Homo sapiens: one gene and its partners. The protein of the gene in region 3 purifies or fractionates together with the protein of the main gene of each other region. This does not show direct contact. Each region holds a gene or a part of one and is shown on either strand. Other genes may lie near its edges. The genes, in order: TMEM238L, MFSD8 and KDSR.

Region 1 (3,943 bases), on a different chromosome or scaffold from region 3:
ACTTTGAGGTGTCCAGAGTGTTCACCTGGCTTGGCTCAAGTCTCGTGGCGTTTCAGATCCTAAGAGCTATGGTTTAGGTCATCCCCTGCCACCTTCCCCAAAATATTTTCTGAAAGTTTCTTTCTCATCCTGGCTTATTTTACACATAGAAAAATGAAGGCCGGGCATAGTGGCTCATGCCTGTAATCCCAGCACTTTGGGAGGCGGAGGCGGGCGGATCACCTGAGGTCAGAGTTCGAGACCAGCCTGGCCAAGTAGAGTTTGAAACCCCATCTCTAATACAAATACAAAAATTAGCCAGGCATGGTCATGGGCACCTGTAATCCCAGCTATTCCAGAGGCTGAGGTGGGAAAATTGCTTGAACTTGGGAGGCAGAAGTTGCAGTGAGCCAAGATCGCACCATTGCACTCCAGCCGGGGCAACAAGAATGAAACTCTGTCTCAAAAAAAAAAGGAAATCAGATCCACCTACTTATTCTCACCCTCTGGGGAAGGCAAAAGTGAGAGTGGAAATTATTTTCTTCATTTATCTGGGTAAACTGAGGCCCAGAAAGGTTTGGTGCCCTGTTCTAGCCTCCCTGTGAATCAGGGACAGAGGGGTGGCTGTCTGCAGCCCTGCCAAGGACTGCCGCTGCATTTTCCTCATTTGATGTTCACCCCCACACCCGCCGTGAGCAGCCACGGGGATAAGATCGCTCCCATCAATGTAGAAGGGATGCAGGCAGTGTCTGGAAGGGCTTACAGGGTCATCTATTATGAGAAAGAAAATGAACATAAAATGAGTTCATGTAGAAAACACAGAGGCAACAGGCCCCGGAAACATCCCTTGACTTTTGCCTGGGAATTGCCCTTTGGTCCACACAGAATCCACTGCAGGAAGAGGCCAGAAGTTTCTTCTCACCCTGTTGTCTTCTCTCTGTCCCCTCTGTCTTTTCCATCTCTACCCCTTTCCCGCCCTTATCCTTACTGTCCATTATCCTAGGGAACTCAGATCCTTCCGTCTGCAGAGTGAGGGCTCTACAAGAAGGCAAAACTTCTCTTGCTAACATGGACCAATTCTTACAGCAACGCTTCAAAATCGATTGATCTTACAAACTCTTGTCTATGTCCTTTACATAAAACCTTTTCCCCCAAGGAAGAGAGTAGGGCAGGGAGGTGAAGAGGAATGGAAACTCCACCACTCCACCCCGCTATACTAGATGAAGCAGCTGTGTCTCAGAAACAGGGCACTCAGGCTCTCTGGCTTCCAGGGATTAGAGAACAAGGCACAGATCAGCCCCTCCCCCAGAATCACAGGACCGCCAACTTGGCAGATGCATCCAAGGGCACCCTGACTCCTCTGCCACATGGATTGTAGGTCCCAGCGATGAGCAGCCCAATTAACAGTGATGTCAGACTGTTTGGGTCCAGATCATTCCTGAGCCATGAAACAGTTAAGAAATATCCTGCCCCACTGGCTGCCGTGCTCATAAAGGTAGACCCACGTGTACTTCCCTGTGGCTCCAAGAAGCGCCAGCTCGCTCATTTGCTCACACCCAGCAGGCAGAGAAGGCAGCAGCAGGCAGGACCGCCACCCTCCCATGCAAATCACCCCCGGGAGTGCAGCTGGGCTCCTCCCGCTCCTCCTGGGCAATGCTCCTGGGGAGTCTGTGGGGAAGATGCCATCCAGGGCGCTGTGCGCTCTTCCTCATCCTCGCCCTCCTGCTGGACGCGGTCGGCCTGGTCCTTTTGCTGCTGGGGATCTTGGCCCCCCTGAGTTCCTGGGACTTCTTCATCTACACAGGTGCCCTGATCCTGGCTCTCAGCCTACTGCTCTGGATCATCTGGTATTCCCTCAACATTGAGGTGTCTCCTGAAAAACTGGACCTGTAATTTGGCCATGGGAAGAGGAGAAGAGACGCAGGTGCTGTATGCAGACATGTCTGTGAACCTGGGGCTCTTGGGCAGCAACACGTTGCAGCTTCCACCTAGCAAGCCACGCCGGGACCAGGTGAGTGCACACAAGACCTACCTGGCAGGGTGGCCAGAGAGGCTTGGACAAGCAGGGGCAAGACCAGGCCTCCTGAGGCTGCATAAGCAAATAGCCAGACACTGCACCCTGACTGGGGATCCTGTGGCCCTGGCCTCAGGTCCTGCTGGGGTGGCCAGCCAAGAGGACGTGGGGCAGGTGTTTTCTCCTCCGGGCCCTTTTCCTCGCAGAGGCTGGAAAGAGAGTCTCAACAGCCCCTTCCACCCCTGATATACCACGAATGATCCTGGCTTCTGGGCACAATGGGAAGTTATCCCTTTACCTCGGAACTTGGGGACAAAAAGACCCCATCTGCATTCTCTGTTGGGAAGAATCTCTGCTGGGGAGAAAAGTCTTTAGCACAGGAGAGGACGGAAAGTTCCCCAATGACTCTTGTGCCCTTGCATACATGAAGGGGTGTGAACTGGGCCACGGTAAAAGCAAACAGAGCAGAACCACCCAGAACGGCCCCTCTCGTTCACTTCCTCCCTGCACCTGCCCAGATGGGATACAAGAAGCGGGGTAGGGACTACTCGCCTCCATGCCCACTCAGTGCACACACCTCCTCTCTCTGCAGTATTCCCACCCCACCCTCACTCACACTCACACGCAGCCAACACATGTGCCCAGCCAGTCTCCAAGGCCCAGAAGTCAAGACAGTTTGGCTTCATGGATTTCATCCGCTGAGTTGCATGTCACAGCTCAGTCTATCGCGTGCAACCAAAGAGGCAGAGAGTTGTAAGATTTTTTCACATCAAGACAGAGTCCCAGAGATAGAGTGGTCTGGTCCTTACAACCCTGAATTAGAGATGGACAGCTGTCTCCAGGGGACTGAAGTCAGAGCCACGGTCCATTGGGCAGCCATACCCTCCTCCCCAGGTGGGCCCAACCTGCACGCAGGTGTATCCAGGCACTCCCGTTTCTTACTCCCTTACCAGAAGTAAGAGCAAAGGTCGTTGCTGAGTTGAAAGAAGGAAATAATAATTGTGTCTTTTGTGGGGGATTACACCTGACTCTCAGAACTCAGAGAAAAGAGAAGCAAAATGAAGAGGTCTCAGTAGAGTAAGGTAAGCCCATACCTAGGAAATGATGTAGAAACAGATGAGAAGTCAGTCCCACTCTGATCTTCAGCACTTGTTAGCTGGGTGTTTTTGGCCAGGTTGCACACTCTGAGCCTCAGGATTCTCATCTGTAAGATGAAGAGAATATTTCTGGCCCTTATTGCTGCAAGGATCGAAAAGAGATAAGGCAGGGAAAGGCTGTACAATTGATGTGGTTCTTACACCAGATGTCAAGCATACAAAACACATAATCTGGGATGAGTTAACTGACCCAAAGTCCAAATGTGAAGTACCTTGGTGTCTCTCAAATTGGTAGTGATGGGGGTCAACTCACACTTTGCATCAGGAAACTTCAGAGCAAAAAGGGTCCCTGATTTGTGTGCTGGTATGTTGGAATGTGTCAGGCACTGTGCAAGACACTGGGGATAAGAAATGAGACACATGGACCAGGCACAGTGACTCATGCCTGTAATCCCAGCACTTTGGGAGGCCGAGGCGGGCAGATCACTTGAGGTCAGGAGTTCAAGACCAGCCTTGGCAACATGGTGAAACCCCATCTCCACCAAAAATACAAAAAATTAGCCACGCATGGTGATGCACACCTGTAATCCCAGCTATTCAGGAGGTTGAGGCAGAAGGATTGCTGGAGCCCAGGAGGCACAGGCTGCAGTGAGCAGAGATTGCACCACTGCATTCCAACCTGGGCGGCAGAGTGAGACCTGTCTCAATTAAAAAAAAAAAAAGACACATGACGTGGGGGCTCTACTCTCAGGGAGTTTACCATCAGGTGAGAAAGACAGACACTCACCAAAGATTCACACTTACAAAAGTACAATAACAAAGTCAGGTCTGCTCTAGGAAGGAGAGGAGCATC
Region 2 (3,024 bases), on a different chromosome or scaffold from region 3:
GATTCTAGCTCCAACCATGCCTAAATAGAACTCTTAAACTCTTAGTTGCACAAGAAGTCTTAATACCTGGGGCCTGCAAGGCCTTGCATTGTCCCTTTATAGACTCAGCTAAAATTAGGCTTCTTCTCAACCACTATACTCCACCCAACTTGGACCTATTTTTAGTTCTGTGAAAGCTCCAAGATCTTCCCACCTCCAGGGCTTTGTACACACTGCCTTCTGCCTGAAAAGTACTTGTCCCACTCTTCACCAATCCAAATTTTCTCTTCCACTAGGTCTTGGCTAATCATTTCTTCTGGAGAAACATGCCTGACTCTCCTGTTCAGGTCAGGTTCCCTGTTAATCATATTCACCCTCATAGCTCCCTATGCTTCTCTCTCATCACCCCTCCCTCAATCATAATCATCTGTGAAATCATCTTGTGAATATCTGACTTTCTTGCTGGTACATAAGCCTCATGAAGGTCGGAGCTCTGTGTGTTTTGTTTACCGCACAATCCCCCAAATGACATTGTAATTGGCACATAGTGGGTACCCCCTTAAATATGTACTGAAAGACGACTGAATAAAGTTTTAAAGCTTAAGGTACATATGCAAAATAATCTTGTTTATTAGAAAATGAACATTCACAATGTAAAGTAGAAATTAAATTACAAATAAGTCTTCAATGGTCAAAAATGGTGCCCAGAATTTCTTCTCAAAATAAGTTAATCTATTCTTAAACAGATGCAGGTAAGTAGTTTATCCTTGTCAAAACAAAAAATTAACAGATTTCACTTTATGTAAGAGATAAGGTTTATATGAACAAGAAGAGTTTATTTTTAAATGTAAAGCTGAACAAGATAGAATGGAGATGCTTTGTGAAGTTATAAATCCCTTCAAAATATGAAAATCATCCTTTCAAGTTTAAATTTGTTTTCAAAAACATATTTTCTCTTCTTAAATATGTACTACTCTTAACAATATATCATACCTTAAAATCTCCTGTTGTCATTTTCTCTTTATACGCAACTTGGCCTACTCAAGAAGACATCAACATGGTGATTTTTTTTCCTCAAACTTTATCTCCTTGCTCTTTTCCCAATCCCATGTTACTTCCTTTCGCCTTCTTTTGTGCCAAGATGAGCAAGGTATAATCCTCCAAAGAAGAAAATGCTCCAAAGAAAATGCTCTCAATAAAAAGGAAAGTAAGAGTCATTTGTGTAAGGTTAAGTTTATCTAAATTTTAATCAATATTATAAACCTTTGAAAGCTGGGAAACTTTTTTCTGTTATATTCTTGCTGGAAACAGGTTATTATGCTAAGACAAAAGCTCCAGTCAGTGGGCTTATGTTGCCCAAATATTTCTGCTAGTAGGACTCACTGGTATAGTTAAATTACCCTACAATTAGTGATTAATTGAAACTGCAACTTTCTGGGATATTTTCCTCACTATGAAAAATCAAGTGGTTAAGACTGTGGACTTTAAGGATAGACTGTTACTTAGACAAGTAACTTTTCTGTGCCTCCATTCTTTCATCTGTAAAACGGGAATCATAATAGTATTTTCACTCCATAAGACTGCTGTAAGAATTAAATTGTATGTTACACATTACCTGGAATGTGGAAAGCACTCCACAAATTTTGCTCTTATCATTTTCATCATTACCATTATTCTTGTTATTTTTGTCATGCACACTATGCAAACCAAGGGTAGAGTTTACTCTTTAAGATTAGACGTGGCCCAAAAAATGTAAGACAGAGAAAGCAGCTGCAGAATAGCAGGTAAGAGGGATCCCAGACTTGACCAAATAGCCAGAACTGGCTACGGTTCTGAGAAATCTATGGAAGCAGTCTTGCTATGGGCGGCAGAGGAGAGTGAAAACAGTCTTCAAAATTTAATCGTAGAATAATTCTATCAAATTAAGCCCTTTATTAGAGCTGAAAAAATTGAGTTTAAGAGCACAGCTAGTTTAGCATAAAGTGCAGATTATACAGTTTTAAATTTTTGTTTTTATTTTTTGTAAAGACAGGGTCTCACTTTGTTTCCCAGGCTGGTCTTGAATTCCTGGCCTCAAGCAATCCTCCTGCCTTGGCCTTCCAAAGTGCTGGGATTACAGGCATGAGACACTGCACCCAACCTATAAAGTGCAGATTATATAGTGTTTATTCTCAGATTTGAAACTATTTCTAACTTAAAGTAGAAAACATTTGGAAAAGTGTTTAGAAATATTTTTGCATTTTCTTAACAGTGCTTATCAATATACATAGTTATCTACTAGTTCCTTTTATCAGCATTCAACTTATGTAGAGGTAGAAGTTAAACATACAGTGTTATTTAGCCAACTTCAGGTAAACTCAGTAAATTGTTAGATTAAAGCCATTTTGCCTCAAATACTTATTAGCCTGACTAGTTTGGGGCTGTCAGGGATCATCCAAATTAAAAATCCAACTAAAATTCTGCAGCTCTACACAACTATGCAGACATAGATTGAAAACTGTTGTGTTCCTCCCCGCCACTACTGAGAGATGGGAAAAATTAAAGTAAATTAATTAATGTTTTACTAATTAAATGTTTTTCTCCAGTTTAAGGGGGTTGAAAAATAGCAATAATTTTAAGAAACCATTTACTGTTTTGTATATATATATATAAAATAACACATATCTGGATTATGTTTCTAATGTGAATTTTTGGCATTTGAAAGAAAGTAGGTATCCCTATTAGGCTAATAGGCAGTGAAGTATCTTGATCTCTTAATCCTCTGTATTGCTCAAATATTAGCATTATCCATACTCATTTATTAATGTAGGGGTTACTTAGTGAAACCCTGAACTAAAATAAGGCAGAGGTGTAGTATTAGAAGAAAGACTCATAGAAGGCAAGGTAGGATGTTAGGCACGCTAAATGGAAAATATGTGTTATAATTTTTATTTCATAAGTGAACTTGATAATAGAAAATGCATTTTTTTATAAATAAAAAGTAGGTGTCTGAATAAAAATACCTCTACTTGGGTAGAGGTATTTAAAATTCTATAATTTTGTTCT
Region 3 (3,655 bases):
CTTTGTGCACGTGTGCAAGAATGGTACATACCCAGAAATGGAATTGCAGAGCTGTAGTGTATGCAGTTCTTCAACCTCACCAAAGTGGTTAAGCTCCCATAAGTAGGAATGCGGTTTCTGTTGCGCCACATCCCTGCCAATACTTGGTATTGACAGACTTTTTACTTTTTGCCTTTCTGATGAGTTTTGAATAGTATTTCACTGTGGTATTCATTGACTTTTTCCCTTCTAGAATGTTAGAGATCTTTCCATGTGCATTAAGTAAATTTGCCTTAAATTGCTGCAGCCTAGGATTGAAGTACACCAGAGCTTATTCCGTCAGGTCCCTGCTATTGAGCTGTTTCCATTCTTTTTATTTTATTTTGTATTTTTATTTTTGCAATTGCAGTCTGTGCTGCAAGTAAAAATCCTTGTGTATATCTTCTGCACATGTGAGTTTTTCTCTAAGACTGTGGTCTTTACCCCCTTCTCTGAAGCCCACAAGCATTGGAAAAACACCAGCTCTGTAAATTGCCCCGTTTTTTCCCGTATTCCTGTAATATCTGATAGACGAAGGAGTATGGTGTGAAGTCATGGAGTCAGTGTTCAGGGCCAAGGCCAGTCTTGCCTGCTGCCAACACTGTCTCCGCTCTGGGCTTCCTCATCATGACACCTTCTACCTCTTCATCTACCAAAGGACTTTAGGTCAGGTGGAAAACTTACCTTTCACATCAAGGAAGGGAGATAGGGCTGGGGCAGGCGAGAATGAGCTTGATCCTTCTGCCCTGCCAGGCTTCTAGGGACCTTTTGTGTGTGTGTGTGACTTGTTAACATTTTTTTGTTCTGAGATTTCACTTGTCTGTGGCATAGATTTTATTATTAGTAACTGATCTAATACTGCATGAAAAGGCTTGTTTTAAAATTAATCATATGATTACTACTGCCTTTTTTTTTTTTTGAGACGGAGTCTCACTCTGTTGCCCACGCTGGTGTGCAATGGCATGATCTCAGCTGACTGCAGCCTCTATCTCCCAGGGTCAAGCAATTCTCCTGCCTCAGTCTCCTGAGTAGCTGGGATTATAAGTGCCCACCACCACGCCAGGCTAATTTTTTGTATTTTTAGTAGAGACAGGGTTTCACCATGTAGGCCAGGCTGGTCTCAAACTCCTGACCTCAAATGATCTACCTGCCTCGGCCTCCCAAAGTGCTGGGATTATAGGCGTGAGCCACCGCGCCTGGCCGATTACTACTACCTTTAAAACAATGTTTTCTATCTGAGGATGTTGGGATAAAATCCACTCTAGGTATACATTACAACCAAGGGCAACCCCTCTAGACTAGAATGCTGCAGGTTATATTTGCAAAGAGGGCTGTTTCCTTTTCTTAGGAATTTTGATCATTTGGACAGGATTCCTTCTTGAAAGGAATCAGCACTGAGGCCCTTATATGGAATATTTCCATCACTCCCTAGGGTTGGCCTGTGCCCTTTCACAGTTCCTTCCATCCTCCATGCCTGGCTGTGGGCAACCCCTGATCTGCCTTCTGTCACTATAGATTAGTGGCATTTCAAGAGGAGCATTTATATATTTTTAAAAAGATTCCTCAGAGTTTTAACTCCAAAAGCTGCCAAGAAAATTAGATTCTGCTAATTGCATCATCAGCAAACACTGAAATCTGTTCATTCAATATTGGCTTCCTTCTGTATTCAATGAACTGTCTTTTCTTTAAAAAATATCTTTAAGAAATAGTTTGGTACCTGCAAAACTTTGATCACTTTTTTTCTTTTTTAACAGGTGGTGCTTTGCATATCAGTTGATGTATCTCAAGACTATAACCAAGTAGAGAATGTCATAAAACAAGTAAGAGGTTGGGCTAATTGGAATTCACCAATGTGCTTGACTTTTGATTTGTTCTTGCCATTTTGCTATGTGGCTTGGAATGGACACAACTTCTCTATAGGTTTAATAGTTTTGTAAATTTTATTTATCAGCATGGATTTGCTGCTGAGTGGTTTTTCTTCTCTGTTTCTTAATGCCTGCTCTGCTACATTTTTCTAGGCACAGGAGAAACTGGGTCCAGTGGACATGCTGGTAAATTGTGCAGGAATGGCAGTGTCAGGAAAATTTGAAGATCTTGAAGTTAGTACCTTTGAAGTAAGTAAAAATGTTTGCTCACTGCAGTAGCACATATGCTAAAAGCAGAGCAAGCTACGGGTAAAAGCTTTAAGAATCAATTAGATGAATGCATTCAGATGTCCATGGAAGCTTTAGAAGACTCTAGAGGAAGGCTGAACAAGGTGAAGCTGAACAAGGTTTTCATCCCAGTGTCAGGACCATTGAAGCTTAAGAGTTTAGACATTTTACAGCTGAGAAAACCAGCTAAAATGGGAATGGACCTTCTAATCTGACACAGATTACTGTAGCAGTTCACTGAGGTCATATTTTCAAGAGAACACTTTGTAACCTAAGAGATGCCGGATGTTCCTATCAAACATCAGTATTATTAACAAGGAGAAACCAAAAAAGTTGAAGGACAGACTCACTAGAGTTCTCAAATCAAGATAAAAAGATACTGCATCTTATTGATGTTTCTATTTTTAATCAGGTTTACCAAGGAACTTCTCTTGGTAATTTATTTCAGCACCAAAGAAATGAACACTAGATTTGAAATTTTTATTTTTTCTTTTTTTGAGATGGAATTTCACTCTGTCACTCAGGCTGGAGTGCAGTGGCGTGATCTCAGCTCACTGCAACCTCCACCTCTCAAGTTCAAGTGATTCTCCTGCTTCAGCCTCCCTAGTAGCTGGGATTACAGGCACATGTCACCACACCCAGCTAATTTTTTTTATTTTAGTAGAGATGGGTTTACGCCACGTTGGCCCGGCTGGTCTCAAACTCCTGACCTCAGGTGACTGGCCCACCTCTACCTCCCAAAGTGCTGGGAGTACAGGCATGAGCCACCAGGCCCGGCCTGAAATGTTTTTAAAATGGAAAACGTTTTTTAGTTGCCATCGCATCAACAATCTTTTTCTTCCTTTTTTTTGAGACAGAGTCTTGCTCTGTCGCTGAGGCTGGAGTACAGTGGCACGATCTCGGCTCACTGCAACCTCTGCCTCCCGGGCTCAAGCGGAGTGTCCTCCAGCCTCCTGTGAGGATGAAGCTGGGGAGTGTGTTGGTGTCTTCGTGTGCGCCGTCTAGACAGACTTTCCCTTAAACCTCTCTCTTTATCTAGACTTACTATCCCTAGAAACAGAACCTCCAGTCTCCTGCCAGGCTGGAAGAGGGGTACAGATCTACCCTGTGGAGAGGGGAAAAACATCTAAGATCTAACTGCCTTTTTTTTTCATTGTCCTACATTATTTTTTTAATTTGAAGTGAAATTCATATAACATAAAATTAACTGTTTTTAAAGTGAGCCATGCAGAGGGATTCAGCATATTCACAATGAGGTGCACCCACCCCCTCCGCCTAGTTCTAAAGCATATGCATCACCCATAGGGCGGCCCTCACCTGGTAAGCAGTTGCTCCCCATCCCTGCTCACCCCCACACCCAATCTCTGACAACCACCAATCTGTATTCTGTCTCTGGTCATTTCGTATGATTGGAATCATGATATGTGCACTTCTGTGTCTGACCTCTTTCTCTTAGCATCAGTTTTTGAGGCTCATCCACATGT

What was found.
Region 1: the proteins of KDSR (region 3) and TMEM238L purify together in Homo sapiens (co-immunoprecipitation; one study listed by IntAct). This does not show direct contact.
Region 2: the proteins of KDSR (region 3) and MFSD8 purify together in Homo sapiens (affinity purification with mass spectrometry; 2 studies listed by BioGRID and IntAct, with this or other methods). This does not show direct contact.

The regions. Positions count from the first base shown.
Region 1 is NC_000017.11:10,801,653-10,805,595, reverse strand, and holds the start of TMEM238L (transmembrane protein 238-like), read left to right. Parts: upstream 1-1,496; 5' UTR 1,497-1,632; coding exon 1,633-1,872; 3' UTR 1,873-1,990; intron 1,991-3,087; exon of another isoform or gene 3,088-3,197; intron 3,198-3,943.
Region 2 is NC_000004.12:127,917,220-127,920,243, forward strand, and holds the end of MFSD8 (major facilitator superfamily domain-containing protein 8), read right to left. Parts: 3' UTR 586-3,024; downstream 1-585. UniProt on the Homo sapiens protein: Outward-rectifying chloride channel involved in endolysosomal chloride homeostasis, membrane fusion and function. Conducts chloride currents up to hundreds of picoamperes.
Region 3 is NC_000018.10:63,353,681-63,357,335, reverse strand, and holds part of KDSR (3-ketodihydrosphingosine reductase), read left to right. Parts: intron 1-1,772; coding exon 1,773-1,838; intron 1,839-2,036; coding exon 2,037-2,132; intron 2,133-3,655.